4 separate regions of the Homo sapiens genome follow, and regions 2, 3 and 4 are each linked to region 1. Evidence: fine-mapped expression QTL. A gene starts in region 1. Each other region holds a variant in brackets. All regions are shown on one strand. Distances are from middle to middle.

Evidence for each region. PIP is the estimated chance that this variant, and not a neighbour inherited with it, causes the effect.
Region 2: its variant is fine-mapped to the expression of NEURL1B in whole blood (TOPMed, PIP above 0.99).
Region 3: its variant is fine-mapped to the expression of NEURL1B in lung (TOPMed, PIP above 0.99).
Region 4: its variant is fine-mapped to the expression of NEURL1B in whole blood (TOPMed, PIP above 0.99).

What each region holds. Positions count from the first base shown.
Region 1 is chr5:172,637,689-172,645,792 of GRCh38, forward strand. It overlaps NEURL1B (neuralized E3 ubiquitin protein ligase 1B), which reads left to right and starts at 3,575. Exons shown (of 5, transcript NM_001142651.3): 1 at 3,575-3,749. The coding sequence starts at 3,719. LOC107986478 (a long non-coding RNA gene) reads left to right here. Exons shown (of 3, transcript XR_001742996.2): 3 at 1-790. RefSeq lists a silencer at 3,337-3,626.
Region 2 is chr5:172,681,079-172,689,182 of GRCh38, forward strand. It overlaps NEURL1B (neuralized E3 ubiquitin protein ligase 1B), which reads left to right. Exons shown (of 5, transcript NM_001142651.3): 3 at 2,341-3,060; 4 at 5,093-5,218; 5 at 5,603-8,104. The coding sequence ends at 5,847. LOC107986479 (a long non-coding RNA gene) reads right to left here. Exons shown (of 3, transcript XR_001742997.1): 3 at 5,227-5,459. Among named protein-coding and RNA genes, the nearest start is that of MIR5003, 23 kb to the left of the region's middle. RefSeq lists enhancers at 2,099-2,599, 2,600-3,100. The variant A/C (reference allele first, on the strand shown) is at 3,366.
Region 3 is chr5:172,612,432-172,620,535 of GRCh38, forward strand. It overlaps LOC105377729 (a long non-coding RNA gene), which reads right to left and starts at 4,411. Exons shown (of 3, transcript XR_941229.2): 1 at 4,335-4,411. LOC107986478 (a long non-coding RNA gene) reads left to right here and starts at 5,241. Exons shown (of 3, transcript XR_001742996.2): 1 at 5,241-5,395. RefSeq lists an enhancer at 4,190-5,106. The variant T/G (reference allele first, on the strand shown) is at 4,563.
Region 4 is chr5:172,474,535-172,482,638 of GRCh38, forward strand. LOC105377727 (a long non-coding RNA gene) reads left to right here and starts at 4,517. Exons shown (of 2, transcript XR_941225.3): 1 at 4,517-5,070. RefSeq lists enhancers at 4,549-5,170, 5,171-5,790. The variant C/T (reference allele first, on the strand shown) is at 5,015.

The DNA of each region.
Region 1 (8,104 bases):
GTCTGAGGCTTGGTGTCCTCGTTTGGAAAATGGGGATGCTAGAACCTATCTCCTTGGATGTGGTATGACTATAATATTTGGAGAAGGAAGAGATTCACATTCCATCCCTGTGGTTATAAAGTCTCCTGTGCGGCAGGTGCTGAGTCCAACAGTCCCTTCCCTTCCCTTGTTGCTGTTAGACATAGTGCCTGGATCCCAGGCCCCTAATACATGCAGACAGCATTTCCACAGTGTCCCGGCCAGCCCTGCTTGGGAGCTAGTGGGAAGAGGTGAGATTGGGAGAGGCAACAAAAATGGGAGGCCCACATCCCAGGAGATCAGCTTGGTACACAAGCTGCAAAGACAGGGGAGCACCTCTGCAGTCCTCTCAGGGTCAGTAGAGGCAGGACCAATCAGACTCATAAACCTCAAACCATAAATCACCCCCATGGCTTCATGTGGGTTGTAGGGGCTCAGTGGATGATTGTACTGGAAGGTATACTTTAGAAGACATGTGACTCAGGAAGCCCCTCCTCAACTGCCTGGCAGGAAATATATGGTTTCTATTTGCACACCTCCTGGGACAGGGATCTCCCTCTCTCCCAAAGCCACCCTTCCACCTTCGTGGACTAGCTTTGTCCTCCTTCTCTAGTGTGGTGCCCAGAGCCAAAGCGACTTCTGGAATGGTCTAACCAACATGCACTGGAGCAGCAAGCCCCTCCTTTGTCCTAAAGACTATATTTCTGTTAATGCATCCCTATTTTGCTCATTTGCTTATTTTTCCCTGCACATATTACTATTCATCACACCAGGGTCTAGGGCTACTAATGGCAAAAACTCATTCTCTCACAGCTCTTTCTCTCCTCTCCCTTCTTATTACCTTTCTCCATTCCTTCTTTCTTCCCTCTCTCCTTCTTTTCTGTTTTTCTCTCAGCTCAGGGCAATGCATCTCTGCAGTCAATTTATGCAAATGTGTATTGAGCACCTGTGTCTGCCAGCCCTGTTCTGGGCACTGGGGTTTCCTAGATGATTACAGCCTTCTTCCTGCCTGCAGGAGCATCCTGTCTGGCAGTGGAGAGGACGCAAAGGTAACAGCTACAACACCTGTCTTGAGGGTGTAATTGAGGGGACAGCACAAAGTGCAGAGGGATCTCAGATGGGTGAGCAACTGCTGTATGTGCCCAAATATAAGGTAATCCAAGTAAAGATTACAGGCAATCCCCATTCTCCCTATGAGAAGATGCACTTTCTTATTGAATAATATAAACTTAATGGGGTGAAGATGAAATAGACATCTACTTGAAATATTTCATTTATTACTTTAGTTATATAAACATATTTGCAATTATTCTCATAGAGAATACTAATATGGAAAGATTGCTTTTGGCAGTTTCAAATTTCAGGAAACAATTTGATTCTAATTCTTTTCTGTGTGGCTTTGACACTAGTGTCACCATCGTGTGTGTTGGGGGCAGCTTTTTACTAGAGCAGGTCCTACTCTCAGAGATCCAGAGGCTAACACACAGCCCTTTCGAATCCACATGTCAGGCAACTGCTGGGCACAGTGTCTCCACCGCAGGTCCAATCCGCATCACATTTTGACAGTAGGGATTCATTTGCTGCAGGTGAGTATTTGTGATCTGCACAACATGGCCACTTACTGAGGTACTCTGAAAGTGGCCTTTAAAAGGCCTGTTCACAACCTCTCACCCTTGCCGTCACAAAGTCATATTTGTTTGCATTGCCTTATCTGAGGAAAATTCCCTCAATTCCCTTTATAATATTGCTGACCTCCATATGCAACCCAATGTCACATAGATTAAAGGAGGATCAGCCAGGTGAGGTGGCTTAGGCCTGTAATCCCAGCACTTTGGGAGGCTGAGGTGGGGGAACCGCTTGAGGTCAGAAGTTTGAGACCAGCCTGGCCAACATGATGAAATCCCATCTCTACTAAAAATACAAAAATTAGCGGGGCGTGGTAGTGGGTGCCTGTAATCCCAGCTACTCAAGAGGCTGAGGCAGGAGAATTGCTTGAACTTGGTAGGCAGAGGTTGCAGTGAGCCAAGATTGTGCCATTCCACTCCAGCCTGGGTGACAGAGTGAGACTCTGTCTCAAAAAAAAAAAGAAAAAAAAAAAGGATCACGCTAACGGACCTTTCTCAAACAGAACTTTGGGGTTAAAAATTAAGTCACTGGGCGAGCACCTGTAATATGAGAAATTAGTAACTCAAATGCAAGGCAATCTTATGTTCAGACATATGACGTCAGGGGGGAGTGGGGAATCAAGGTTTCCCGGAAGTGGAAGCTTGGAGCTGGCCTTAAAGACCCTAGAACCCTCTGGGATGGGTCATGTACTGTAAGCAGAAGGCACCGGAGATGCAGAAGGCTGTCTCCTGAATACCCCGCTTTTATTCGCATAGCTTCAGGCTAGCTTTGCCCTGTACCATTGGAAGATCTTGGGCACCTCTCTTCCACTCTCAGAGCCTCAATTTCCCTATCTGTGAAATGGAAGTAATAATACATATTTCATAAAGTCTCAAGGGATACAAGAGCATGAAAAATAGAATTGAAAAAAACAGCTCATTTGGAATCGGGTCTTCTTGGGGAAGTCATTGCACTTCCTGGGCCTCAGCGTTCCAGCCTGTGAAATGGAGCTCGAGAAGGGCACAGCTGCACTTCCCACTGAGTGTGGTCCAGGTGCCTGAATGAGGAATGCCTGTTACTGCCTCTGCCAGGAACACTCTACCTATCTCTTCTCATGGCCGACGCCTTCTAGTCCATCAGATGGAGCTTATGTGCCCCCACCCCAGATTCTCCCTATGCCCCCAAACAATGTCATCTCCTCACTCTACTGGGATCTGTTTTATTTTCTTCCTGGCTTTGATTATTATATAATGTGATCGTAATTGCTTGTTATTTCTATCTTCAGCATGCCATCTCCAGGGCAGTGGGGACCTTGTCTGTATCTACCCGGCCCAGCACAGTGCCTGGTGCATAGACTGTGCTCAATAAATATTTTAGTGAATGAGCGAATAAATTAATGAATGTGGGTTCCCTCTTCCCAATCTTTGGACACTGGGTTTCTTCTATTCCTCGGTACCTGGCCTAGGGGATAGAAAAGACTCCACCCAAACCCGGGAACCCTGGGTGTACTGTCTCCAAGCCCTTTACATGGTCCCAGGGGCCCGTCTGCCTCTGTGTAAGTTCCCCCGGGGCCGAAGCACTCTCCAAAGAGGTCTGCCGGGGCTAGGACTCGGCCGGCTGGGGCCCCGCGCCTGGAAGAGGGCCTGGCACACAGTGGGCCTTCTCAAAGTGTTAGAACAAATGGGTGACAGGCCAGCAGACTGCCGATCCTGGCACCCGAGGGCACCCAGCTGCCCTGCGCGCCTTCCCGGCCCGGGCGCGGGAGCGGCGAGGGCGGGAGGCTTGGCTGTGCTTCTCCCGCCGCCTGGTGCAAACTTTCAAAAGATGCGGCGGCCGCGGCCCCGCCCCTGCACTGTTGGAGGCGGTGGGAGGCGGGGGCGGAGCCGGCGGGCCCGGGCCGGTGGCTCCGCCTCCTCCTCCCGCAGGCGCCGCCGCCGCCTCCCTCCCGGCTCCCGCCCCAGCTGCCGCCCGCCGGCTCGCCCGTGCAGCTGCGATGCCCCGGAGCGTCGACCCCGGTCCTGGTCCCTGGCCCGCCGCGTAATTAGCCTCCGCGCGCCCAGAGCGCGCCGCCGCCAACGCCGCGCCCGACGCAGCGATGGGCAACACGGTGCACCGGACCCTGCCAGGTACGCCGGGGAGCCCTGCCCGGGAGGCGGGCGCCGGGCTTCTCTCCTCCGGGGGACCCGCTGGGTGACTCTGGAGAGCTACCCCACGGCCCTTGGAGCCCTCGGCTCGCAGCGGGCTGGAGTCTCCGGTACCTCCCGGACCTCAGCTCGGCGCGCGCCCCGCGGCTGGGCTTTGCGCCCCGGGAGGGCGGGTACCGCGTCCTGGTTACCTTGGGGACCCCAGTCCTCATTCTCCCGGCTTTGGCCAGATGCGCAAAAAGGGCCGCTGGGGCGATGCCGCGCGCCCCCTCGCCTTTGTTCCAGCCCGAGGGCGCTGATGAGCAAACTCAAGGCGACCTGGGTGGGGGTGACTGGAGCCGGGCTCGCCAGGGCTTCCGACGGTCAGAAGCCACCCGTGGTGCCAAGACTGCAGCTGCCGAGAGTGAGGGGTGCTCTCAGGGGCACCCCAGTTTCCAGCCTCCCAGCGCCCCCGCGGCACATGCTGCCGTGCTTTGGCCACGTTCCCACGCGCACCCCGGTTGCGCCCCCCTCTGGTGTCCGCTCCACTGGGGACTCCTTCGCCCCCTCGGAGTCGCTGCTGCAGATCGCATCGCCCCCTAGTTAAAATCGCCCCAGAATTTCTGGGACCGGAGTGAGGGGATCCGGAGCAGGTTAACGGGGTAGGAGGAGGCCTTACTGGAAAATACATGGTAATTGTGGGAACAGATCAGCGGTCCCGCGCCCGCGCGTGCCCGTGGAGGTTCAGTGCCCAGCACTTTGCATACCCCAGCTCGGTATGCAAAGAAGCTTCGCGATAAAGATGTGTATCCCAGTTTTACAAATAAAAAAATTGAGTGTCAGAAGAGGTGAAATGACTCACCCAAGGTCACACAGCTAGTAGTGGGAGAATCTGGAGTGGGACCTGTGTCTCTCTGCCCTCCCTCCCCTCACACGCCCAAGTATTTAGAAGTATTTTGTCTTAAGGCTGGGCCTTTGTAGCATCCTTTGGGCAAAAGGTGAGAGGAGTGTGTGTGTGTCTAAAGCACAAAGGCTCGGCTCAATGGGGAAGCAAGTCAGCTGTGAGGTTAATTTAGTGTGAGGTTCTGGAAGAGGGACATATCACCCCATCTCTGCTATAACACTCCCATATAGCTCTCCCTTCTAGGCATTACATGCTCTTAAAGAATAATTTCCCCTGGAGCGGGTTGAAGTGGACAGTGCTGAGCCCAGGATTCCCAGGGTCAGCTTATGGAAGAGGAGCCAACTCCTACTTTACAAGCCTCTGAGCAACTGCACTCAAACGTTCAAATTCCCAGAGAGCTGTAATCATCAGCAGAGTCACCAGCTAGTCAGTGGCAGAGGTGGGATTAGAACCCAGGTCTGCTTACTGGAGGGTGGCCTCTACCTCCTGTGGACAGGGCTATTGCCAGGTTGGGGGAGAACCCACCCGCGGGTCAGGAGATATCTGGGGATGTTGGCAAATAGGGCAGCAGATATTCTCGCCACATAGACACTGGGATGAGGCACCTCGGCACAGGCCCCTTTCCTTGGTTTCTTAATTTAAAAATGTTTATACTATTCTAGTAAAAAGCCATTCTGCCACCTGTGGGTCAGCCCTGGGGTGCGTAAAGGGACAGACACACGCCAGGCAGGCTAAATATAGCTAGAGATTTATGTATTCTCCATCCCTCTCAACTCTCTCTCTGTGGACTGGGCCACCCTAGTCTGGGAGCCGGCAGTTAAGGTTGGTTACCCACTGCAGTGTCTAAGTATGGGGAATTCAGACTCTTCTCTGGGGATTGAAGCTTGCACTGAGTTTGAGGAAGGGGTCAGAACCGGAATTCCTGAGTCACATCGGGTGGCAGATGCCAAGAATATGAAGGGCCGTTAATTGTTTTCCGACCTACCAGTATGAGTTTCTTGCACACCCTGTGCTGTTTTTTGTACCTCTGTGCTTGGCATGTGATGGTCCCCATGCATGGATTGTCCTTTCTTGTCTAGTCTGCCTTTCAAAATCCAGTTGTCGTTACCTCCTCCAGGAAGCTTTCCCTGACCACCCACAGTCTCATCCTTTGCTCTGCTATCTGGATGCCTGAAGTCCTTTCCTGCTCATCGTTGCAATGACTGCATTGTCACTGCCTGTCTCTGTGACTCTTTGCGGTTCCCTGAGGACAGAGCCCTTGTCTTGATCATCTTGTATCCCTGGTTGCCCATCCCAGAGACTGGTGCCTGGCAAGGGCTCAAAAACTGGTGGTGGAGCTCGAATGTTGCCTGAATCTTAGGCTGAAGGAACACTTGGCACAGTCTTGCCCTGTAGAATCCTTGTGCTTTCGTTCTCAGGAAAAGGACACATGCGTGGGGTTCTTTCTGCGGGACTTGAAATAGAGAGCTGGCATTTGCTGAGCACCTGGATTCCATGCCAGGCTTCCTGCATATGTGGCTTCATTTACACGCCAAGCATGCTTCTCCTCAAGGCTTCTGCACTTCCTGATCCCTCTCCCCGGCACATTCTTCTGCCCTCCTCCCCATGGCTCCCACCAGGCTTCCTTGGGGTCTCTGCTTGAACGAGGGGCCTGCTGTTGCCCCAACCCCACTCACTCCTTTGACCCAGCTTTAAGTTTCTCCTTAGCACGTGTCACTATGCGACACGCTGTATGTGTAGTTAGCAGTTTCTTGTCTGTCTCCCCCAGGGAGATTTTGTCTGTTTTATTCACTGCTATACGTTTAGCACCTGGAGCAGTGGCTAGTACAGAGTAAATGTTCAGTAAGTACGTGTTGGATGGGATGAATGGATGAATTTAATTCTTCTAACATCCCTGCAATGTAGGCATTATCATCTCCATATTACAGTTGAGAAGCCGAGGCTCAGAGAGGTAAAGTGGCTTGTCCCAGCTCACACAGTTCACCTAGTTGGCAGAACTGGGATTGCAATTTAGGTTAACTTAGCTCCAAAGTCCTGCATTCTTATTCTGACATGCTGTGGCCTCCCAGCCCGTGATTTAGATAACATTTATTGGGTTCCCCACCATGCACGTGGCATGCTACACTATACAATAAGGAAATGCCAAAGAAAGGGAAGGTTGTTTATGATCGATTGCGGAAGCCTCTTGGCAGCTCTTGCAAAGTGCATCAGCATATTCAGAGAAATGCCCTTTAAACAGAACGTGCAGCACAGGACCTCACATCTACTAAGCTCCTACTGTGTGCTCTACACTCTCTTTCCAGTTGCAACTCAACCCTGCAAAGTAAGGTGCCATTCTCCACCATTTTAAAGAGATTAAGACACTTTGCATACAGTTAGGCAGTGGCAAAGCTGGGCTTAAAAGACTGAGACCTGTCTGACTCCTCATACCATGTAGTCCTTCTCTCTCGAGTCCGTTAGCCTTCATCTGGGTATTTGAAGGGAGAAAAAAAGTGTAAGCAGGTGGGGATAGGGGAGGGCAGCGTTCCAGGATGAGAGTGAGGGGAGGTGGAGGGAGGGACTCATCCCCTTCTCCTAACAGCACATTCCAATCCCTTCCTTCTCGCCTCTTGGGCTCACCTGCAGCTCTGGTTGGAGAATACACTAAATTCAAACAACAGGTTGGGTTTCATCATTAAGTTGGCCCACGCTTGACCGAACCAACAGCTTTTTCGTATTAGCTCAATAACCGGGCATCCTGGAGCTTTGGAGTGAGGAAAGTGTGTTGATCCCGCTCTATATCAAGCCCTTGGTCAAGGGCTTTACCCACAGTATCTATTTGAAATCCTCATAACAACCCTTTAGAGGGACTATATTTATCCCCATTTTACAGGGCAGCAAGTGGAGGCTCAGAGAGGTCAAGGACACAGAGTAAGGGGAGAAGCAGCCTCCCCTAACCTACGTGGACAGTCTGTAAGTGCTGCATCCAGACAAAGAAGCACTCGCTTACCCCAGACAGTCTGACATCCTCCCTTGCAGAGCCCTTTTCTCTTTTTGGCCCAGATAAGGGGCCATGTGGATGCTGAGCCTAGCCGGGACACATCTGCTGCTCCCTGACTTCCCATCTGAGCCATGGGTGGTGTTGCTCCCAGGGCCTGGCAGCCACTGTTTTCCCTGGATCTGGACTTTCTCAGCTCTTGGGAGGACAGCGACCCTTGTCACCCTCCTTCCAGCCATGGCAATACTGCATGGATGGCCCATGGAGTGATATTGCCTCTTCTCTTTCTACCTCTCCTCCCCCTTCCCCAGGCACAACTTCACGTTCACTTGGGCTTTACCTTGCTTGTCTTGTCCCATCTTCCTCCCTTCCACCAGGTCATTAAGAACCACCTCTATCAGTGATTCTGTAGAATCAGAATCGCTTGCTACCCTCAGGAGCTGGCCCTAGTGGAAGGGGCCAACATGCTGTAACAGA
Region 2 (8,104 bases), 43 kb after region 1:
GAAGTGGGGGAGGTGCTACACTTCTCAACAACCAGATCTCGTGAGAACTCGCTATCATGAGAAGAGCAAAGGGGAAGTCCACTCCTATGATCCAATCACCTCCAACACTAGGGATTACAATTTGACATGAGATTTGGGTGGACACAAATCCAAACCATATCAGTAGCATACAAGTTTATTGAAGGAAAACTAGATAATACAGAAAAATCTAAAGAAAAGTCCTTCATGATCTCACCCCAAGAGATAATTACTATTAATATTTTGTCTCTCCATCACTTGATTTCCTATGCACATAAATAAAATGATACAGACAGATGTAGACAAATGCACACATATGTACTTTTTTAAAGAAACAAACTGAAACCCCACTTCTTCCCTCGAGCTATGGGAAGCACCCTCGCTAAGGCAAAGCATACACACTCAGATGCCCAGAGTCCAAACAAGTAGCTGACCCCTTTTGCTGAGACCTTGAAGAGGGCCACCTCAGGCACATCAAGAGAGATCAAACCACCTCAATACAAGGGCAAGCTTCTTTAGCCCATTGTGGCCAGGGCAGAATTCAGGTCCTACTGCCAGATTTACTGGTTTCCCAAGTGCTATAAATCCAGTTTAAGTGAAAGGTGTCTGAGGGGGTGCATTTGGACCCACCGGGGCCTGGGGCATAATTCGAAAAAGCATGTGCATTCTTATGATTTCATTTCATATTTGGAAAACTAAAGAGGAAATATTTTTCAAGACACTATAGAATGGTAACATTTAACAAAATCTTGGCTCAAAGTGGTCTGTTTAAAAAGTCTAAAACACTTATTTTCCTATTATGGTAAACAAAAATGTTTGTATCACTAAAAAACACCTTCACAATATTTTAATGACTCTTTCCTGATGTTGTTGTTATTTAGCATAGCAGTCTCTTCTAGACCTTAGTCGTTCCTTCATTCATCCAATAAACTATTAATAGTGAAGGCTATTTGCCAAGCCCTGAGAACATGGTGGTGACCAGACTGACACAGACCCTGCCCTCAAGAGACTCATATTCCAGCTAGGGAGGCAGAAAATAAACAGGTAATCTACTAAAGTACGAATACCTGTATTACCCAAATGATAAACACTATTTTTGCTTTTTTACCTATGTCATATGAAGAACATTTTTTCAAATCACTAAAAAGTACTTTAAAATATTTTCATAACTGTAACTTTTAAAGAACTTTCCCTTCGGCCGGGCGTGCTGACTCACGCCTATAATCCCAGCACTTTGGGAGGCCAAGGTGGGCAGATCACTTGAGGTCAGGAGTTCAGGACCAGCCTGGCCAACATGGCAAAGCTCCGTCTCTACTAAAAATACAAAAATTAAGCCGGGAGTGGTGGCAGGCACCTGTAATCCCAGCTACTCGGGAGGCTGAGGCAGGAGAATCACTTGAACCCAGGAGGCAGAGGTTGCAGTGAGCCGAGATCGCGCCATTGCACTCCAGCCTGGGTGACAAGAGCGGAACTCTATCTCAAAAAAAAAAAATTTCTTTTCCCTTCATTTAGTTTTATCAACTGACTCAATCTCCCGTAGACTTTTTTCTGTCAATGCTTAAACACCTATCCAGGGCCAGGCACTGTGCTCTGTGCTGTGAACACAGCAGTGAGGACAGACCCAGGTCCTCCCTTCTTTCAGAGGCAGCATGTGTTGAAGAGCCCAGACTCTAGAGCCAGACAGCCTGGGTTCAACTCATGGGTTCAAGTCGGGGCTTTGCCACTTAGTAGCCATGTGCCCTTGGTCATGTTCCCCAACCCCTCTGTGCCTCAGTTTCCCTGTGAGCTCAATAGCAGGCAGTAACCGTACATGCCTCACAGAGTGGTTGTGTAAATTAAATGAGGTAGCGCGCGAAAGCTTAGAAGTGCCCGTTGCGTAAGGCCACGAGTACAGGTTTGCTCTTTTTATTGGAGCTTATGTTCTAGTTGGGGAGACGGACAATAAACGATTTTTAGATGCCCTTTTAATGATCAAAGTATGGAAACCTCGGAAAGAGGGAGAGAAGGGGAAAGGGTGGAGAGAAAAGGAGGGATGGAAGAAGAGAAAGGAGGAGGCAGGGGAAAAAGGGCCTTATCTGCCGCTCCCAAAGGTAAGAGCATGTCAAGGAAACCGAGGATGGTGCTTAATGCAATTCTGTGCTCCTGTGACTCACTAAATAACACAGATGGACAAAAGGAGAGTTCGAAGCCGGGGTGGGGTGGGGGCTGCTCGAGGCCCGGGTCGGTCGTGGAGGCCTGCAGGAGGCAGCGGGCGAGGAGGGGCTCGCGACCAGCCTGACGCGCGGCCTCTCCCCCTCCATGTCCCTCCCTTTGTCCGCACAGAGAGCGCCTTCGCTGACACGCTGACGCCCGCGCGCCTCAGCCAGGCCCGCTTCAGCGCCTGCCTGCCGCCCAGCAGCCACGACGCGGCCAACTTCGACAACAACGAGCTCGAGAACAACCAGGTGGTGGCCAAGCTGGGCCACCTGGCGCTGGGCCGCGCCCCGGGCCCACCGCCAGCCGACGCCGCGGCCGCCGCCATTCCGTGCGGGCCCCGTGAGCGCCCGCGGCCCGCGTCGTCGCCGGCGCTACTGGAGGCCGACCTGCGCTTCCACGCAACACGCGGGCCCGACGTGAGCCTGTCGGCCGACCGCAAAGTGGCCTGCGCACCGCGGCCCGACGGCGGCCGCACGCTGGTCTTCTCCGAGCGCCCGCTGCGGCCCGGCGAGAGCCTCTTCGTGGAGGTGGGCCGTCCGGGGCTGGCGGCGCCCGGCGCGCTGGCCTTCGGCATCACGTCGTGCGACCCGGGCGTGCTACGGCCCAACGAGCTGCCCGCCGACCCAGACGCGCTGCTCGACCGCAAAGAGTACTGGGTGGTGGCGCGCGCCGGGCCCGTGCCGAGCGGCGGCGACGCGCTCAGCTTCACGCTGCGGCCCGGCGGCGACGTGCTCCTGGGCATCAACGGGCGTCCGCGCGGCCGCCTGCTGTGCGTCGACACCACGCAGGCGCTCTGGGCCTTCTTCGCCGTGCGCGGCGGCGTCGCGGGCCAGCTGCGTCTCCTCGGTGAGTCCCCGGCCCCGCGTGCGCGAGGCCCCGCCCCTCCCCCGTCCCGTGCCGTCTCACCCCGCTGCGCTCTTCCCCGGCCCCGCCCCTCTCGCTAGGCGCTGCACCGCCCGAGGCCAGCCCGCGGTTCCCAACTTTAAGCGCCCGGGCACGATCCACCCCGTCCAAAATTGCCGGACTCCACCCCAGAGTTCCGGATTCAGTGGGTGCACGGTGCGCCCCGAGAACGTGCATTTCCGACAAGTGCCCGGAGATGCTGACGTTGCGGCTCTCTGGACCACATTTTGTAAACCACCGACCTAGAT[A/C]GGTAACCGGCTTATCTCCGAGCTTGGCAGGCTATATCCCCTCGGTAAATGGTCGGTGCGATTTTTAGTTCCGTTGTTACGATTTGTTACATTAGGGTGTTTTTAACATGTAATGCACAGTAAGTGTAGGGAAAAAATAAATTCGACTGCACATGAAAGAGGAAATAAGAATAGTATCGTCCACAGAAAGTGGAATGGAGGCCTGAACCATCCTATTTTGAGATAATTTTTGCCTTCATTCATGCCACAAATAGGCAGGAGCAGCCACCAGCTGTGGGCCGGGCCCTGGGCACCAGGATAGGGCCAGCAGAGGACAGGACACACTCCATGCCGGTTAGGAGCTCACAGACACCCTAAAGGAGAGTTGCACGGTGTGACATTTGCTACAGCCGGGGGCTCCTCTCCCAGCTTGGTGGAGTGAAGGAGATGTTCAGAGAAGGCTTCCCAGAGAGCCTGGCTCCAACTTCATGGCTCAAAAAGTAGAGTCCAAGCAATAAGAAGCAGTCAACAGCTCATATGTTCCCTCATTGAATTTTATCCTCCCTTTGACTCTATTGAAATCAGTATCATTATCCCCACCTACAGATAAGATAATGAGCACAGAGAGATTAAATGACTATCCCAGGGTCACATCGCTGGTCAGCTTTGAAGATGCTGGACAAATCACAGATTCTCCTGAGCCTGTTTCCTTCTGTAGAAAGAGAGTGATACCTGCTTCATGGGGTTGTCATGAGGATGAAATCATGTGCATATAATGCCTTGAGCGGGGCCTGACACTGGTTTAATCAGTGGTAACAGTAACAACAGCAGCTGTTGCTGTCTTCATGAGGGCAGAGGAGGAGCCGGGTGGCAGTGTGGTTATTTGGTCAGAGTGTTTTTTGGGGAGGGGGAAGTTGTGTTGTTTTGTGTTTTTGAGGAACCATCAGACATAGTCATCATTTCAGCCCGAGACGAAGTGCCCATTATCTGTCCATTCATCCTCAGGTAGGGCAAGGGAAGGGGCATCTTTTCATCCTAAGAAACAAGCTGTTATTGTCTGAACCAACAGCAAGCTTGGGGAAGAAAACTCATCCATGTTGAGCACTAGTAGTCAGGGATCTTCTCGCAAGGGGCAAAACCCCACTCAAAGTGCCCTAAGCAAAAAAGGAAATGTCTGGGAGTATATTGGGTGAGTTCAGGAATAGCTGGATCTAGGTACTGGAAGGATATCAGCAGGATCCTACCTCTCTTTCCAACTCAAAGCTCTGCTTGCCTCTGTGTTGGCATCACTCTCAGGCAGGCCTTTGCCACGGGTTGGCTCTTCCAGCTCCAGGCTTCCTTCCCAATGAATGGAATGAGTTCCTTCTTTCCTAGTAGTTCCAGTAAAAGTTGCAGAATTGGGTCTCGGGCCTTACGGGGGTTATGTGCCCTTTCCTGAACCACCACTATTGAGACCAGAGAGTGGAAGTTCCTGTTGGCCTGGCCCTTATCCTATGAGGGAGGGCACATTAGTATCCCAAAAGAACATCCCAGGGCTGTTTCTGAAAGAGAAGAGAATAGAGGCCTGGTAGACAAAGAACAGAGGCACCACACTGGGATGCACTCTTCACTCCTCAGCAGAACCCTGGGAGATACCTCTGGTCCTCTCGTTAGACGGGAAAGCTAAGGTGCAAAGCAGTGAAGAACCATGGACTAGCAGGGCAGGTCCAACCTTCCACTGCCCCTGATGGAATCTCTTTGGGCCTCAGGTACCCTGCAGTCCAGCCCTGCGACCACGACTCCATCAGGGTCCCTCAGCGGCTCCCAGGACGATAGTGATTCAGATATGACCTTCAGTGTCAACCAGTCCTCCTCGGCATCTGAGTCATCCCTGGGTAAGGAAATGCAAACCCTGGCAGGGGCAGGGGCTGGCGGCTGGCCTGGCTCCTCCGGCTGTGCCAGTGGCCTTCCAGGGACTGAGCAGGGTGGCCGCCTTTCCCCCGCATCCTCTCCTTCCCTCAGCTGTATGCTCAGCTGGAGGGAGGAGAAGTGTCTAGATAGGGCATTCCAAAGGGTGACGATGGTGGCATTTTATCTTGGTGTTTGGGAGTAGAAGAGTAGAGAAAGGTGCAAAACCTGCAAGGTAAACTCAAATTAGTATCTCCCAAAAGTATTCTCCCACCGGTCCCAGCAAGAAGCCCTGCATTCTCGGGGTTGCCCCAACAGAGCCCACCTGAGAGAGACATTGTTAACATATGTCCTCTTCTCCCTTTCGGCAGTGACGGCCCCCAGCTCCCCGCTGAGCCCCCCGGTGTCCCCCGTGTTCTCCCCACCGGAGCCGGCAGGCATCAAGAATGGCGAGTGCACGGTGTGCTTCGATGGCGAGGTGGACACGGTCATCTACACGTGTGGACACATGTGCCTGTGCCACAGCTGCGGCCTGCGGCTCAAGCGACAGGCCCGGGCCTGCTGCCCCATCTGCCGGCGGCCCATCAAGGACGTCATTAAGATCTACAGGCCATAGCCTAGCCTGCCCACGGGCCTTGGCCGGTGCAAGGTCACCTTTCTGAAGGCCCCCTGGGCTGGGCAACCACATGGCTGCCAGGGAGTCCACGGGCAGCGGCCATCTCTCCAGTGGTGGGCAAGGTGTGACAGTCGTGGAGCGAGGCCCACAGGGCCTCAGCCCAGGCAGGGGTTGCTTCTGGCTCCAAAGTGCTTTGCCCCCAAAAGGCCGTCCCAAGAGCAAGCTCAGGAACTGCCTGGCAGATCACCCTGTCCCTTGGTGACCTTTCAACTGGGAAACAGCGTCCTCTGTCTGTGCAATGCTTCTTGCTGGGGTTGGGTTGAGTGTGAGAGAAGGGGAGGGGAGGGAGGGAGAACAGAGAGAATGTGTGTGTGAGAGAGAGAGAGAGAGAATGAACGTGTAGCGATTTTACCAGGGGTCCCGGCTCCGGGAGGAGACGTGCAATCCGGAGCCCCGACATTGGCATGACTAGAAGTTGTTCACTTTCTGGGGATGGGACATAAGCTGGTTTTGAATGTATGAAGCTGACCCTCACAGAACTCCCTGGGGTGGTGTAGAAAAGAGATGCTCAGATTTTCTAAGGGGAGGCAAAAATAACTCATTGTTTACAGCTCCAAAGCATGAACTCCTTGAGGGGAAGGTGGGTGAAGAACAATTCACTTCTTCATTTCTTACTGGGTCTTAGAGCTGGGTGTGATGGGCACCGAGGCCAACCCCTCTGGATTGTGTCATCTTTTCACCCCTTCACCCCCAGACTGTCTAATAATACACACATCATACCTTGTCTCCGTCTCTGGAGGCAAGTCTCTGTAATGCCCTTCCCTATCTCCAAGGAGAAGACCAGCAGTAAGTTCTGTTTTTCTGTGGGAGAGAAAGAATCCTAGAGGCAGGTGACCCACCTGGAGCTGGAAAGCCCACTCCACGATGCAGACAGCTCTCTACCTTCCTGTGGTGGCCCCTGGGCCTGGCATTCCCAGGGGACCTGCTGGCAGGAGGAGGAACGAGGGCTTTATAACTTTGGTTATAACTTTTGGTCTTTGTTCTGATTCTCAGTGTATCTTCCTCCGCTGGTTACTAAAGTGTTCACTGATAAGTATGTTAACTAATGATCGAGACAGTAACGAAAAATGCTGGCACTGGGATTCTCTCCCTTCCCAGACCTACCTGCTGGTATTTCCTGGGACCTTGACCCTGCCCCACCCCCTCAGCCGTGCCCATCTCTGCAGACTCCCAGATCACATCTGGGCTGATGGGCTGGCCCAGGCCTGTCCCTCCCTTCTTGCCCCCAGTTCTGGGCTCCACCTCTGCCCTCTTCTGTGCTGTCCCATTAGGGAAGTCCCTTGGCCTGTCTATTTTTCAGTTCCCAATTAGAAGTCTAGAACCTGACAACTCCAGGAGTTCTTGGGAGGACCAGTACAACGTTCTAAAAAGCCTGAGACGCCTTACAAAAAGCAAGTATCATTTGGAGTACAATTCCTAATCTGTTCATGTCCTGCTGAAGGAGGGAAGGAGGGAGAGGAAGGCAGGGGAGTTGATGCATTCATATAACAAACACTGCTGGGTGTCTGGGTGCCCAGAGCAAAGCTGGGCCAGGCCTTCACCAGATCAAGCCCCACAGACCAGCTGGTGCCCATGCGCTGCTGGTGGTTTGGGGCCTCCTGTTCCTCCTCTAGCTGGGAGTAATCACAGTTGTCTGACCTGATTCCAACTTAAGGTCCCCACTCTCTTGCCCCATCAAGAATCCCTGATTATTTACTTTTCCCTAGAAAATCTGGGGAAATTCCCACATTTTAATTTTGCAGCAGAATCTTTTGAGCAGCTTTTGGAACCACAGTGTTTGCCAAGATAAGAGTTTGAGAATCCAGCAGCCCTGGGTGCCTGGCTGAATTTGGTTTCCTGCATGTGCTGGGTGTGGGCGGGGCCACGCACAGGCCCTGCATGGGAGGACTCCTCACCCCAGGCCTGTGGTGCTGCAGACAACCGTCTCCTGTCTACACTGCGACCCAGCCACAAGCTGTGGGGTCTCAGTGGCCTGGGGGAAAGCAGCTCCACTCTCCTGCCCTTCCTGGCTGCCCCTTTGGGTTCCAGCCGGGGTCACGTCCAGCCTCCACTGGGAAACCAGTGACTGAGGCCTGGACCCAGAGGTGGACCAGGCATCTCCTGGCCACCTGTGACCTGGGAAGAAGCGAGTCAGTGGCCCGTTCAACCTGCTCTGCAGCTGCTATAAATAGCCTCCCTGTTTCCAAGAGGAGGTAAG
Region 3 (8,104 bases), 25 kb before region 1:
GAAAAAGGCAATAAGAGTGTGGGGGTTAGTGTCATTCATTAATAACAGCTAATGCAGGACTTCTGCTTCCGACCACAATGGAATAACACAGTCTGCACTTACCCTCCCATCTGAAACAACCAAAAGCCAGACAAAATATACAAAAGAATGGTTTTCAAGACACTGGTCATAGGGCAACAAAGAAGAGCAATCCTAGAACATCAGGAAACAAATGAGGCCAAGCTTACTTACTGGCTGGAGAGAGTTTCTAGGCCATAGCATAGAGTACAACGGAGACCCCAACAGTCTCTCTGATTGAAGAGATGGAGCTGAGAGTCCAAGGAGGTTGAAGCTGCTAGAATTCACACAACAGAGTTTTGGACAGAAGACAGCTCATGGAGAGAGAGACCTCCAGGGAAAGTTGGAGGGTCTCCCCTGAGTATTCAGCTGAGCATTGACCAGTGCATGCACGTGAAGAAACTATCTGAGCCTGGGAAAGAGCCACCCAAGTGACTTAGATGGAACAGCGCCTGGTGCTCGCACAGGGCCAGGACCAGCACCTGTTCTCTCCAGCCAGACTGGAAAGCCTCATGATTGACAGAGCATTAGATAGGATACTACTGAAAGTCTTACCTCAGCTGCCGAGAATAGTTGGCCCTGCACTAAACTCTGCTCAGATCCAGCCTATTAAATTTTAAAAGCAAGACTTGAAAGGATTAAACTGTTTCTAAGTAACTTAACTTTGTCCCAGAACACAGGAATACAAAAATATCCAGTTCCCAACAAGGTAAGATTCACAATGTCTGGCATCTAACAGAAAAAAAAAAAAAAAGAAGAAGAAAAGAAAAAAATGACCAGACATGCAAAGAGGCAGGAAAATATAACTATAATGAGGAGAAAAATCAATCAATAAAAGCTGACCCAGAACTGACACAGATATTAGAATTAGCACACAATGACGTTAAAACATTTATTGTAACTGTGTTTCGTATGTTTGAAAAGTTAATTAGAGACATGAAAGATATAAAATAAACTTCTAGACCCCATACTCAATGGTGAAAAGTTGAAAGCTTTTCCTCTAAGATCTGGAACAAGACAAGGATGCCCACTCTCACTTCTTCTATTCAACGTAGTACTGGAAGTTCTAGCTAGAGTAATTAGGCAAGGGAAAGAAAGAAAAGGCATCCAAATCAAAAAGAAAGAAGTAAAACTATCTCTGGTTGCAGATGACAAATCTTGATGGGGGCACAGAGGCTTCACAAAGAAAATCCTAGAGACTCCACTAAAAAATCTATTAGAATAAATGAATTCAGTAAAGTTACAGGATACAAAATCAACATACAAAAATCAGTAGTGTTTCCATATGCTAACAATAAGCTATCTGAAAAAGAAATCAAGAAAACAATCCCATTGACAATAGCTACAAAAAGAAATAAAATACTTAGTAGTAAATCTAACCAAGGAGGTGAAAGCCCTGTACACTGAAAACTATAAAACATTGATGAAAGAAACTGAAAGTTACATGAATAAATGGAAAGATATCTCATGTTCATACATGGGAAGAATTAATATTGTTAAAATGTCCATACTACCCAATGTGATTGACAGATTCAATGCAATCTCTATCAAAATTCCAATTACATTTTTCGCAAATATAGAAAAACAGTTCTAAAATTCATATGGGACCACAAAAGACCCAAAAGAGCCAAAGCAATCTTGAGCAAGAACAAAGCTGGAGGCATCACACTATTTTACTTCAAAATATACTACAAAGCTATATTAATCAAAACAGCATGGTACTGGCATAAAAACAGACACATAGATCAATGGAACAGAATAGAGAGTCCATAAATAAACCTACACTTTTGTGTTTTTTTTTTTGAGATGGAGTCTCACTCTGTCACCCAGACTGGAGTGCAGTAGAGCAATCCCAGCTCACTGCCACCTCTGCCTCCCAGGTTCAAGTGATTCTTGTGCCTCAGCCTCCCAAGTAGCTGGTTACAAATGTGTGCACCACACCTGGCTAATTTTTGTATTTTTAGTAGAGATGGGGTTTCACCATGCTGGCCAGGCTGGTCTCCAAATCCTGACCTCAATTGATCCCCCTGCCTCAGCTTCCCAAAGTGCTGGGATTACCGGCATGAGCCACCATGCCTGGCCCCTAAACCTCCACTTTTACAGACAATTGGTTTTCAACAAAGATGCCAAGAACACACAATGAAGAAAGACCGTTTCTTTAATAAATGATATTGGGAAAACTGGATATCCACATGCAGAAGAATAAAATTAGACCCTCATCTCACGCCATGTACAAAAATCAACTCAAAATGAATTAAATGTAACACCTAAAACTATTAAACTAATAGAAGAAAACATAGGGGGAAAGCTCCACAACATTGGTCTGGGCAGTGATATTTTCAATATAATCTCAAAAGCATAGACAACAGAAACAAAAATAGACGTGGGATTACATCAAACCAAAAAGCTTCTGCACACCAAAGAAAACAATCCACAGACTGAACAGATAACCTACAGGACAGAATGAAGTGAGTATGTTAAGAGATATCTGCACTGCCATATTCATTGCAGCATGATTCAAAATACTCAAGCTATGGAATCAACCTAAGTGTCCATCCATCGATGAATGGATAAAGAAAATGTGGTGTACATACACAATGGAATACTATTTATCATTTTAAAAAAAAGGAAATCCTATCATTTTCGACAACATAGATGGACCTGGAAGACATTATGATAAGTGAAATATGCCAGGCACAGGAGGACAAATACCACATACTCTCACTTATATGTGAAATCTAAAAAGGCCAAACTCATAGAAGCAGAAAATGGTTAGCAGAGGCTGAGGGATGGAGGAAGTGGGGAGATGTGGGTCAAAGGACACAAAATTTCAGTTCAACAGGAAGTATAAGTTCAAGAGAGCTTCTGTATGTCATGTGACTATAGTTAATAACAATATATCGTATGCTTGAAAATAGCTGAGTCTATTTTAAGTGTTTTCAGCACAAAAAATAAGTATGTGAGGTAATTCATATATTAATTAGCTTGATTTAGCCATTCTACAATGTATACATATATGAAAACATCATGTTTTACGTCATAAATCATACAATTGTATTTGTCAATTAAAAATTAAAAAATAAATTTCGTAACCAAAAAAATCCCAAACTTCTAGAAATGAAAACTTCCTGTGTGAGAAAGTACATTGGATGGGATTAATGGTACAAGAAAATATTAGTGAACTTGAAGACATAGCAATAGAAATGATCCAAAAGAGGCCGGGCGTGGTGGCTCACACCTGTAATCCCAGCACTTTGGGGGGTAGGTGGATCACTTGAGGTCAAGAGTTCGAGACCAGCCTGGCCAACATGGTGAAATGCCCATCTCTACTAAAAATACAAAAAATTAGCCAGGCATGGTGGCGGGCGCCTGTAGCATCCGTTACTCGGGAGGCTGAGGCAGGAGAATCGCTTGAACCCGGAAGGTGGAGGTTGCAGTGAGCTGAGATTGAGCCACTGCACTCCAGCCTGGGCAACAGGGCAAGACTCTGTCTCAAAAAAAAAAAAGCAAAAGAAATTATCCAAAACGAAACACAAAGATAATTTTTTTAACAAATGAATGGCACATCAGTGAGCTATGAGACAACTTCAAGCAGCTTAATATATGTGTAATTAGAGGAGTGAAGGACAGAAGAAACATCTGAAGAAAGAATAGCTGACATTGTTTAAACCCAGATCTAATAGTGAACGTTCATAGTTGTTTACTACACACCAGATGCTAATCTAAGCACTTACACATATTAACTCATCCACTTACAATTCTTACAAAAGCCCTGAAATGCTTGATCTATCCCCATTTTAAAATGAAGAAAGTGTTAACCTCTCGCCCGAGGCCTGACAGCTAGTGAGTGAGTGAGCCAGGAATGGAATCTCAGAACTTCAAACCTTGTCTCTGTCGTTTGTGAATGCTTTCCACATTAGCAAGCCACATCTGTCCACCATTTTTAGTGGCTGTGTAGTATTCCATCGCTGGGGTTTATTTAACAAATCCCCTGTGGTTGAAATGTGGTTTCCAGTTTTTCACTATCATGAAGAATGCTGCCCAGGATAGCCTTAGAGCTGAGATGTTGATGCCCAGGTATATTCCTTGCCTCAGTTTCTAATAGTGGAGCAACTGGAGTCAAAAGGGCTCTTACTACCTATTGTCAAATTGTCCATGGAAAGTTTCTACAGCCCCCAGAAGCCCCACCACTGACTTTCTGTGCTGCTTTGGACAAGTGACTTAACTTCCCTGAGCCTCAATGTCTTCATCTATAAAAGGAGAATACTATTCCCTACCTCTTGGGCTGTTAGGAGGATTCAGTGAGATACCGGGGTCAAGTGACTGTCACAGCACGCTGTGTGGCACGCAGTGGGTGCTCCCTTTGTATGACATCAGCGCTGAAGGAGGAGGCGGTCAGTGGAGCTTCCTGCGGAGCTGATTTGCGCTGGGGGCGTGGGAGGAACGCAGAGGGGCGCATTCCAGCCTGAGGCCACCCCCGTGAGTCTCCCTGAGAGACCCAGGGC[T/G]GCTCTGAGCGGCTCCAGCTGGAGCTCTCCCTATCCTGATCCACCCGCTGACTCACAGTCTCACCCAAGCCCTGGAAAAACAGGGCTTCGCTGTTTTCTTTCTGCGCCCCTTTCCCCGATTCTATCAGCTTCTTTCAGGTAGAGGAGGTTTACGCTTCATAGGTATAACACAAAATCCCCCCCTGCACACACCCACACACGCCCGTGTGTCTCCCCACCCCTATTTTATTCCCCTAGGGACCCACACTGGCTATTTTTCCACAGAGACCTCCTAGGGACACAATTAATGCCAGGAGTGCCCCTCACGTTGGGACTGCAGGCCCAGGGGAGCTCGGCTGCCTCCCTGTATCTCCAGCTGCACAAGCTGGCCCTGGGCCCCTGGTCATTCCCGTTGTGCCTTCCTCACAGTTCCACCGATTGGACCCAAACAGAATTTCCTAACTCAGCCAGGCGTGGTGGCTCACGCTTATAATCCCAGCACTTTGGGAGGCCGAGGCAGGAGGAACCTCTGAGGTCAGGAGTTTGAGACCAGCCTGGCCAACATGGTGAAACCCCGTCTCTACTAAAAATACAAAAATTAGCCAGGCGTGGTGGTGGATCCCTATAATCCCAGCTACTCAGGAAGCTGAGGCAGGAGAATTGCTTGAACCTGGGAGGCAGAGGTTGCAGCGAGCCGAGATCGCGCCGCTGCACTCCAGCCTGGGCAACAAGAGCAAAACCCCATTTCAAAAAAAAAAAAAGAATTTTCTAACTCGAACCATCATTTCCCACTAAATCGAACTCAAGAAGAAATGTCTTCCCCCCAAGCCAGGACACCTGGAAGCCTGGAAATGGTGAGTGTTTGGGGACAGCTACCCGAGATCCGGCAGGGGCTGATTGGAAACGGCCAGAACCGGCTGTGGCAGGACCCCAGGCTCCCTGCAGGCGACTTCGGGATTTGGGACCCGAGTTCTGGCGCAGTTCGGCCCTCGAGCTCCTCGGCCTCAAGGTGGGGTTGGGCCAGCAACCGGGACCCGGGGCGTTCTGTCCCGTCCCTGCCTGGCGACTGCGGCCCGGAAGCCTTCTCTGAGCAGCTCCGCGCCCGCAACCTCACAGTCTTCCCAGATTGTGCGGGGGCCACACATGACATAAGGAGAGTCCTGCCTTGGGTGTAGGGTTCGTGTGGGAGGAGCTGCGGTCCGTGGGGTCCCCAGTACGTTTTCTTTCTGTTAAAAATTAAACTGAGGAGCTTCTGGGTTGCTGAACACATGGGCGAGGCTGGGATGGTGGGACGCCCAGAGAGAGCAGGGAAGCGCTGTATCCCCCACTCCACATCTTGCTCTGTCATTCTCAGCATCTGGTGTTCATCTACATCCTTCGTAATGTCCTTTGTAATATATAGGTAAACAAAAAAAATTAAACTGAGGCCCTAAAAAAAAAAAAGAAATGTCTTCCTCCCTTCCCTTCGTTTTCTCCTCTAAGAACAGCTTTTAAAAATATGGTATTAATGTGGTTTTTAAAGCCTGCAAGCTAGTGTGACTAGAGATAAAAATCCTATGAGAAATATGTTCTGACAGACTGAATTACATCTTATTTGCTAAGAAGGGAAGGAACGCTTATTGAACACGTGCTATGCGCCAGGCCTAGGGCCTGCCACTCTGCCTCCAATCACTCCCTTCATCCTCAACAACGCAAAAGTAGGTATGATAATTTCCCAGGTGAGGGATGAGGCCCAGAGAGCCCAAGGGACTTGCCCAGGTCACACAGCAAGTTGTGTCTGGGCCAAGGAATGGCGCCCAGGAGCCCTGACTCAGAAATGGAGTAGGGGTCTCCTCCTCTGGGGGATGCAGGAGGCTAAATGAGTCCTTTCTGGAAACAGCTAGCCCGGTGAGCCAAAGATGGTCTTTCCTCACCTTCACCTCACTCTGCTTAACTCAGCTCTGTGCACACAGTGGGTCCTTCTTACCTAATGACTTCTGGGCTTCGTCCATCTGTTCCTTTGTTCATTTGTTGAGCACCTACTGTGTGCTGGCTCTGTGCTAGGAGCCAAGGACATAGCAGCGGGCAGATGCTGTCTTAGTTGGTTTGGGCTGCCATAACAAAACACCATAGACTGGGTGGCTCACAACAACAGATATTTATTGCTCCCAGTTCTGGAGGCTGGGAGGTCCAAGATCAAGGCGCCAGCAGATTCCGTGTCTGGGGAGGGTCTGCTTTCTGGTTTCAGAGATGGCACCTTCTTGCTGTGTCCTCACACAGTGGAAGGGGTAAGGCCGCTCTCTGGGGTCCCTTTTATAAGGGCGCAAATCCCTCATGGCCTAATCACCTTCCAAAGGTCCCACCTCTTCATACCATCACATTGAGAACTAGGATTCCAACAGAGAGGAATTGCTGGGGGATACCATCATGCAGACCTTAGTAGATGGTTGTGGCCGCTGCCTGCATGAGCTCACAGACTAGGGGAAAAGGCAAGAATCAAATAAGCTCATGATTAAATGCACACTGGGACCCATGAAAACTGTCACTAAGAACAAATGGAGGCAGGACACCATGGTTCATGCCTGTAATCCCAGCACTTTGGGAGGCCGAGGCAGGCAGATCATGAGGTCAGGAGTTCCAGACCAGCCTGGCCAACATGGTGAAACCCCGTCTCTACTAAAAATACAAAAATTAGCCGGGTGTGGTGGCGGGTGTCTGTAATCCCAGCTGCTTGGGAGACTCAGGCGGGAGAATTGCTTGAACCCAAGAGGTGGAGGTTACAGTGAGCTGAGATTCCACCACTGCACTCAAGCCTGGGTGACAGAGCAAGACTACATCTCAAAAAAATAAATAAATAAAAAATTAAACAACAAAAAGAACAAGTGGAGAGGGGTCCATGAAGTTGGAGCAAGTGGGGAGGGAAGGGAAGGGAGGTAAAGGCACTGCTTCCTTGAGGTCTTCAGGGTGCTACCTGGGCAAAGGAGGAGGGATGGGAAAGACCAGGTGCCTGGAGAGACAGAACTGAGAGTGGAGAGATAAAGTCAGAAGACAAACAGAGGTCAGGCCAAGCCAAGATCAGTGGGTCACAGGTGGGAACTGGGGTTTGATCCCAGGATGATAGGGAGTCACTGAAGTGTTTTAAACAGGAGTGTGAGATGATGGGATTTGTGTGGATGGCACTCTAGGTGCTGTGGAGGGGAGAGGTTGTTGTGTGCGATGGGTTAGCATTAAGTTTGGAGGAGCTGCCTGGATCAGATGCTGGGAAGGCAGAAGGCACTGGGACAACAGACACACAGTGCAGCCGCAAGGAATATCAGTCTCCTCCAATATCCCTCTGCTTCCTCTGCACCCCTGCTCTTTAAGAGACTTGTAAGAAATGTTGGTCCCTTTCATTATTCCTACCAGGGACCCTGACATAGTCCCCACCTGTAACCCTTACAGGCCACTTCCCCACATTCCACACATGCTCACCCCCCGCAACAGGCCTGAGAGCCAGGTGGTATTTGATACCAGTTTTACAGAGGTGCGAGCTGAAGGTGGACGCTGAGAAGCAAACTGCCCTAGGTCATTGGCTTCTAAGAAGT
Region 4 (8,104 bases), 160 kb before region 1:
CCAGACAGGGATCCCGGAGTAGCAGAGAGCTTGCAGGAAGAGGCGAGATGTAATTGTGGCTAGCGATAATGGGGTTTTACAAGAATGCTGAATGATTGGAGTGAGGAACTTTTTATCCTTCATAAAACAACTGTGAGATTACATTGGAAACAAATCATTGTGGGGCAAAAAGAAACATCAAGTACATGGTATTTCCTAGAGAATTATGGCAAAATCTTGTTTGATGTGATGATTATAAGAGATCTGAACCAACTCTTAGGCATGCAGTAGCTACTGTAGCTTTCATTTGTTGTCCAACATTAACTGTGTGCTATGTGCCTGGCATGATGGCCATCATAATAATAGATAATACTTAACTAGCACCTGCTGAGCTCTGATTGAAGCTCTGTACATATCTTAGCTTATTTACATTGTCAGGGAGGTGCTATTATTCCTCCCATTTCACAGATGGGGAAACTGAGGCATAAAAGAGTTAAATAATTGCACAAGGCAGGGCCAGGATTAAGGTGAGCTGAGTAAGATATTTGTCTCAGATGCAAAATTAAAAGGGGTGCCCCCCTAAGACTCTAATTAAGATAAAAAATACAGTAAGGCTATATATATATATATATATATATATATATTTTTTTTTTTTTTTTGAGATGAAGTCTTGCTCTGTCACCCAGGCTGGAGTGCAGTGAGAGCTCACTGCAACCTCTGCCTCCCAGGTTCAAGAGATTCTCCTGCCTCAGCCTCCAGAGTAGCTGGGATTACAGACATCTGCTACCATGCCTGGCTAATTTTTGTATTTTTAGTAAAGATGGGGTTTCGTCATGTTGGCCAGGCTGGTCTGGAACTCCTGATCTCAGGTGATCCACCTGCCTCGGCCTCTCAAAGTGCTGGGATTACGGGTATGAGCCACCGTGCCTGGCGCAGAATAATTTTATAATGTGATACCATCTATGCAAAGAAACCTCCAAGAATAAATAGAAGTTTATACCTGCATGGGGAAAGGTCTGGAGGAGGAAGACCAAGCTCTAGGAGGGCTCCAGGAGGGTTAGGAGGTTGGAGGGCAGTGAGAGAGGCCTTCAGCCTTGCATGCAATGTTCAACTTTTAAAAAACAAAGATGAGAGTTGTGTTTACTTGAGTAATTCAAATTTAATGAAAAAATAAATTTGAGAGGATTTCTATGAGCCGAATGGAGTTGTTTCCAAAATATATTTTTAAGTGCAAAAAAGTTCCATTTTTTTTTTGTAAAACCATTACAATTTATAAAAATGGAATGTGGGAAGAGTAAGTCCAGAAATAATGAAAATGATTACCTATGAAAGTAATAAATGGGGAGAAAAGGGTAGAGATGAAAGAGTCACTATCTTTTTACAATTTTTGAGTTTTGAGCCATATAAATGATTTACTGAATACAAAATTAAATAAAAATGATGGGAGGCCACAGGCTCACGCCTGTAATCCCAGCACGTTGAGAGGCTGAGGTGGGTGGATCACGAGGTCAGGAGTTCATGACCAGCCTGGCCAACGTGGTGAAACCTCGTCTCTACTAAAAATACAAAAAATCAGCCAGGCGTGGTGGCACGCGCCTGTAATCCCAGCTACTCAGGAGGCTGAGACAGGAGAATCACTTGAACCCGGGAGGTTGCAGTGAGCCAAGATGGCACCACTGCACTCCAGCCTGGGTGACAGAGCAAGACTCTGTCTCAAAAAAGAGAAAAACCAAATGATGGGAAAAGCAATAGAAACAAACGAACTTGCCTGTCAAATTGATAGCAACCACACTGACAGTGGAAGTAATTCCAGGACTGTGCGTGCACACTCTTAGTGGGCTATATTTTAAGGATGAAATAACCGCCACTAAACCATGAACTTGGTAGAGCAGTTGTCAGTAGTGGCATTGGTGTAGTTATTCGTTTGCACTGTGAAGTGGAGTTAATATATGGATGTTACTGTCAGCCAGAGTTCTCACTGTGGAAGAAGAGAGGTTCAAGTATGGCATAGGGGGCCGGGCATGGTGGCTCACGCCTGTAATCCCAGCACTTTGGGAGGCCCAGATGGGAGGATCATGAGGTTAGGAGATCGAGACCATCCTGGCTAACACGGTGAAACCCCGTCTCTACTAAAAATACAAAAAAATTAGCCGGGCGTAGTGGCGGGCACCTGTAATCCCAGCTACTTGGGAGGCTGAGGCAGGAGAATGGCGTGAACCCAGGAGGCGGAGCTTGCAGTGAGCCGAGATCATGCCACTGCACTCCAGTGTGGGCGACTGAGCAAAACTCTGTCTCAAAAAAAAAAAAAAAAAAAAGTATGGCATAAGGAAAGCGTGGGAGAAACCTGGGGTGTTGAATTTGATTTGGAACAATCATTGTAAGCTAATAATTAAAATTTAACTAAAACAGCAGTGAGGACACCTTTCCCCAGATCTTGGTTTCTAAAGACCATTCCTCACCAACTCCTCAAAGTAATGGACAGGGAACATACAAGGTGAGTCTGGAGCAAAAGGAAGGGCTCAAAGACTGATGTGGACAAACTATTAATAAAAGGACACAGGATCTGTTGGACGAGGCTCCGATGGTCTACTCGGGAACAACTGAAATATTGAAAGAAGAGTGATGGGAATGGCTTATCACATAGTAAATGAAAAACTCCATGAGTTTATGGTGACACTAAAAAAGGCAGAAGGGAGTTCTGTCTTACAGAACAACAGAACTAATGCATTCGAAAGCCATGAAAGGATCAGAAAATCATCATCTTGCAACCCATAATTGGTTCAAAGATCATATCAGTAAATGCTAAAACCAATAGACAGATAGGTTGTTGGAGTATAGAATATTCACATGGTCTCAAAGAATTGTCCCATGCATGAGATCAATCACAATAGGTATAGGGTACAATGGAGTGGCCGGGCGGTCTGGTGGATGCCACCTACACCAAGCATGACAGCCACCAAGGTGCTCTGTTCAGCTCTCCCTTCAAGAGGACCCACTGTGGGAAGCACATTTGATGGACAGTTCAGTGGCCGTAACTTTTAACCCACCAGTGGTCTACTCTGCTGTCACACTTGACACAGCCACAACTGAACACAGTGGGAATACTAGAACCAGGCCATTCCTGCCCTATGTGGGATTCCTCTATCAGCGCCTTGACTTGGGAACTCCCTATCAGCCTGGCCAAGACATTCCCGGAATTCTGCTGCTGTCTGGCGCTCTTCCTCCCCAGTCCTTCCCTCTTGCTCTCCTTTCCTAGGTGTTAAATGTGCACAGCACCCAAACTCTCCCTGCTGCCTTCTGCTCCCTCTCTGTCCTACACAGGTGTTTCCACCAATACATCTCTTTCTCTTGCACATTGAATCCTATCTTGGCATCCACTTCCTGGAGGACCTGAACTGGCACACCACATGATCACACTTAGCATTGCCAGTAATTTCTGTCTGCCGGATCTGCCCCTTACATACACAGGCTCTGGCTTCTGTGTTGTGCTATGGAATAACTGAGTGACCTTGGCCAGAGCAGTAAACCCCTTGGAGCCTCAGTTTTCTTTTCTGTAAAATGGGGCTTCGTGGGGGTGATTGTGAGGATTAAATGAGATAGCATATGAAATGAGCCTGGCACACAGTAGGTGCTCATTAAACCTGCTATGATGTCACCTTGGGGCTATTGTCATTCCTCTAGGATCTTTTATCAGGAGTGGGTTACTTATCTTCCCTGTGTCTCATTTCTAAATCAGGATATGTATTGTACTTACTTTGCAGGGTTATTGTGAGGATTAATGAAAACCAGTGGTTTGGGTAATGCCCTCAGACACTGCATGCGTGGCACACAGTAAGCACTCAGTAAGTGTGGGCTGCTCTTATCATGAGGGCCATGCTATCTGCTGTCTTATCAGCTCAGGCTGCCGTAACAAAATACCATAGACTGCATGACTGGAACAACAGACATTTATTTCTCAAAGTTCTGGAGGCTAGAAATTCAAGTTGGAGGTGCTGGCCAATTCAGATCCTGGTGAGGACTCTCTTCCTGACGTGCAGACAGCCACCTTCTTACTGTGTCCTCACAAGATGGAGAATGAGAGGGAGCTCTCTGGTATCTTTTCTTATAAGGGTGTTAATTCCATCACAAGGGTGTTAATTCCTTGCCCTCATGATGTCGTCTAACCCTCATTACCTTCCAAAGGCCCATCTCCAAGTACCATCACATTGGGTGTTAGGGATTCAACATGAATTTTGGGGGGTCACCATTCAGTCCATAGAAGTGGGACACAGATGATGCTCAATAAATGTTATTTTCATTCTTTTCGTCTCTCCTTCTCCCTCTGGCAAATAAAGCCTGGACCCGGAGTTTGATTGTGGTTGTGCTATGGAATAACTGAGTGACCTTGGCCAGAGCAGTAAACCCCTTGGAGCCTCAGTTTTCTTTTCTGTAAAATGGGGCTTCGTGGGGGTGATTGTGAGGATTAAATGAGATAGCATATGAAATGAGCCTGGCACACAGTAGGTGCTCATTAAACCTGCTATGATGTCACCTTGGGGCTATTGTCATTCCTCTAGGATCTTTTATCAGGAGTCCTACATTCTTGACTCCTGCCAGATGGGGGCACTCACTGCCTTCTTATTCCTCGTGTGCTCAGTGGACGTCCCTGAGAAGCGGGCTGACTCGCCACCAGAGGGCTTTGTCACCGCCCTTCAAACGATCCTCAGGCACACAGACAGACAGACAGACAGAGGGAGTCCTGGATGAATGGCAAACCCTTCAGATTCTAATTTGTTTCTCAATCAGTTGCTTCCTCGTGTGAAATGAGGGGACAGACAGCTGATCTTTCTGAGCTGCCCATGGCTGGGACCACTGCCTCCATTCCCAACACCCTGCTGGGGACCCCGCCTTCCAAAGAACATGCCCCAGGCACACAGGTGAGCTCCCGCCATGCACTCCCCGTGAAAGGGAAGCCGTCTGGAGGCAGTGTGGCACCTGAAGACGCTGGAGCTGCTGCTGTCAGGGACACACGCCCTGCCCATTCATCTGCCTTCTG[C/T]GCCGGGAGCCCCCGCAGATGCGGAAGATGCAGGGAATGATTCAGCCCCAGCCTTAGTAAGTCAATTTCCACTCATTCACAACTTACGATGGTTTCACACAGGGTGCTGGATTGATGCTTCGTGTTACTCAGCAAGGCTTGCTTCTGCGAGAGGGAGGAGCAGTGGTGGTGGGGGGAACCCTTCCTCGGTGAGGCCTACTTGTCCAGCACAGTGCTCAGGGCCCTGCAAGAGTCCCAGCGGGAGAGTGACTTGCTCAAGGTCACACAGCTCAAGGGGCAAACTGGATTTGAACCCAGACTGTGGGGCTCCAGGGAACCATGGTGGGGTGCACCCCTCCCACCACCACCAGTCTTAGATTGGCAGCCTTTTGTGGAGCGTCCATGCTGTGCCCAGGCCTGTGCGGGAAGCCTCTGGAAGACGCAGGGAGAGTGGCCGGCCTTGTGGCAAGATAGGACACATGTATTGCTATTACTGTTTATTACCACCCTCTCTAACTCTGATCCTTAGAGAAAAAGAGGCACTGAAGAAAATGAGTAAAGAGGAGCAGAGTTTCTTTTTTCCTCCCAAGTGAATCATTGAAAGAAGTAAGTTTCCCTTCAATTTACATTTCAGTTTGGGCCTTTAAAAGCAGTTCTTTTTTTAGTTGTTTGACTAAATATATCTCTCAGTGAACATGTGCACCGATTTTTGGTTGTCTTGTAATTTTTTTCCTGATGACTGGTGTTATGGTTAGAGTCTGGGTTCTAGAGTCCTGTTGACCTGGGTATGAATTCGGGCTCCGTTGCCACATGAGCTGTGTGACTTTGGACAAATAACTTAACCTCTCTGAGACTCATATTCTCATCTGAAAAACAGGGAAATTAGAGTATCTTTCTTACATGTTCTTTGAAGAACTTTTTAAATATGCTTTTTTTTTTTTTTTTTAAAGATGAGATCTGGCTATGTTGCCCAGGCTGGAGTACAGCGGCTAATCACAGGCATGATCCTCATACACTGTAGCCTCGCACTCCTGGCTTCAAGTGATTCTCCTGCCTCAGCCTCCCAAGTAGCTGGGACTACAGGTGTGTACCACTGCACCTGGCTAATATACTCTTTATTTTTTTGGTGAGACAGAGTCTCACTCTGTCACTCAGGCTGGAGGGCTGTGGTGTGATCAAGCTCACTGCAGTCTCTGCCTCCCAGGCTCAAGCAATCCTCCGGTCCCAGCCTCCCAAGTAGCTGGGACTGCAGATGCGCACCACCATGCCTGGCTAATTTTATTTTTATTTTTATTTTTTTAGTAGAGACGAGGTCTTGCTATATTGCTCAGGCTGGTCTCAAACTCCTGAACTCAAGCAGTCCTCCCACCTCAGCCTCCCAAAGTGCTGAGATTACAGGCATAAGCCTCCACACCTGGCCTAATATACTTTTTATGATGAAAAATTTCAAAAACAAATAAAAACATAGAGAATAATATAATTTGAAGTCCAATGTACTGATCTTGCAGCTATGTCTTCAACTTCTGGCCACTCTTGTTTCATCAATTTTACTTGTAACTATTATAATATGTATCTCTAAAACAGGGGGCCCCAACCCTGGGGCCATGGACTGGTGTGGGTCTGTGGCCTGTTAGAAACCAGGCCGCATAGCAGGAGGTGAGCAGTGGGTAAGTGAGTGAGGGAAACTTCATCTGTATTTACAGTTGCTCCCCGTCGCTCACATTACCCTTGAACTCTGCCTCCTGTCAGAGCAGTGGCAACATTAGATTTGAATAGGAGCACAAAACCTATTGTGAGCTGCGCATGTGAGGGATCTGGGTTGCGGCTCCTTATAAGAATCTAATGCCTGATGATCTGTCACTGTCTCCCATCACCCCTAGATAGGACCGTCTAGTTGCAGGAAAACAAGCTCAGGGCTCCCACTACTCTACACGATGGTGAGTTGTGTAATTATTTCATTATACATTACAATGTAATAATAATAGAAATAAAGTGCACAATACATGTAATGTGCTTGAATCATCCCAAAACCATCCCCTGCTCTCCCCGCCCTGTCCATGGTTTTGGACCGTGTATTTTGTCTTCCACAAAACCAGTCCCTTGTGCCAAAAAGGTTGGGGATGGCTGCTCCACATGGTAAGGTTTTTCTTTTACAACATAACTGTTGTAATCAGGATTATAATTGTAATCCTGATGATCATTTGTGGAGGACTTACTGTGTGCTGAGCCACGCTTTTATAGCCCTTTGAGGTAACAGTGACTATCTTCATCTGTAGGTGAGAACAAAGAGGCACAGAGAGGTTGAGGATTTTTCCAGGTCACACAGCAGCAAGCAGTGGAGCTGGAGTTTGAAATGAAAGCCTGTCTGACTCCGGAGCCTGTGCCCTTTGTCTGTGTGTGCTATTATCATCAGCATTCTGTGTGGCTTGTCTGTTTCGATTATAAACTGTTCAAGGTTAGGGCCCCACCTTAGCTTTCTGTATTTTCACAATCTCCAGCTGTTCCATGATTGTCAGACTGATCATCATCATCATCATCATCATCATCATTGGTTTGCACGACCAGCAAGTGCTTGTTAAATACCTAGCTGGAGGACTGCACTCAGACCCTGTGCATGTAAAAGTCACAGTCTCTGCCCTCTAAGTTTCTTATATAATCTGCCAGAGATCAGTTTAGACATAACAGCAAGATGGGAAAACTGATGGGTATCTTCCTGCTGATGAGGCTGATTTCTTCTCTGTCTGAGTGGCCTCAGATTCCACATGAAGATGAAGATGTGGGCATGAGCTGAACAGACATTCCTCTGTGTCCACTGTTGTGCCATGAGTAGTACTAGAATCTGGGGATAGTGGAGGAAATACGATGTGGGGCCTTTGAGGCCAGGGAGGGAATTTGGATTTTACTCTTAGTGTGATGGGAAACCAGTGGATGGTTTTAAAGCGTGATGCAATCCCACTTTGCCACACTCTAGCAAGTGAAATCCCTCCTTTCAGCCTCTTGGGTGGTGGGGCAGGTGCGTCCAGCCGGGTCCTGGGTGCTGCCTGGTGTTCACCTCTTGGCAGCCAGCCACGCTGCTGGCCTGGGACAGGTCCACGCATGCAGCACACCCAG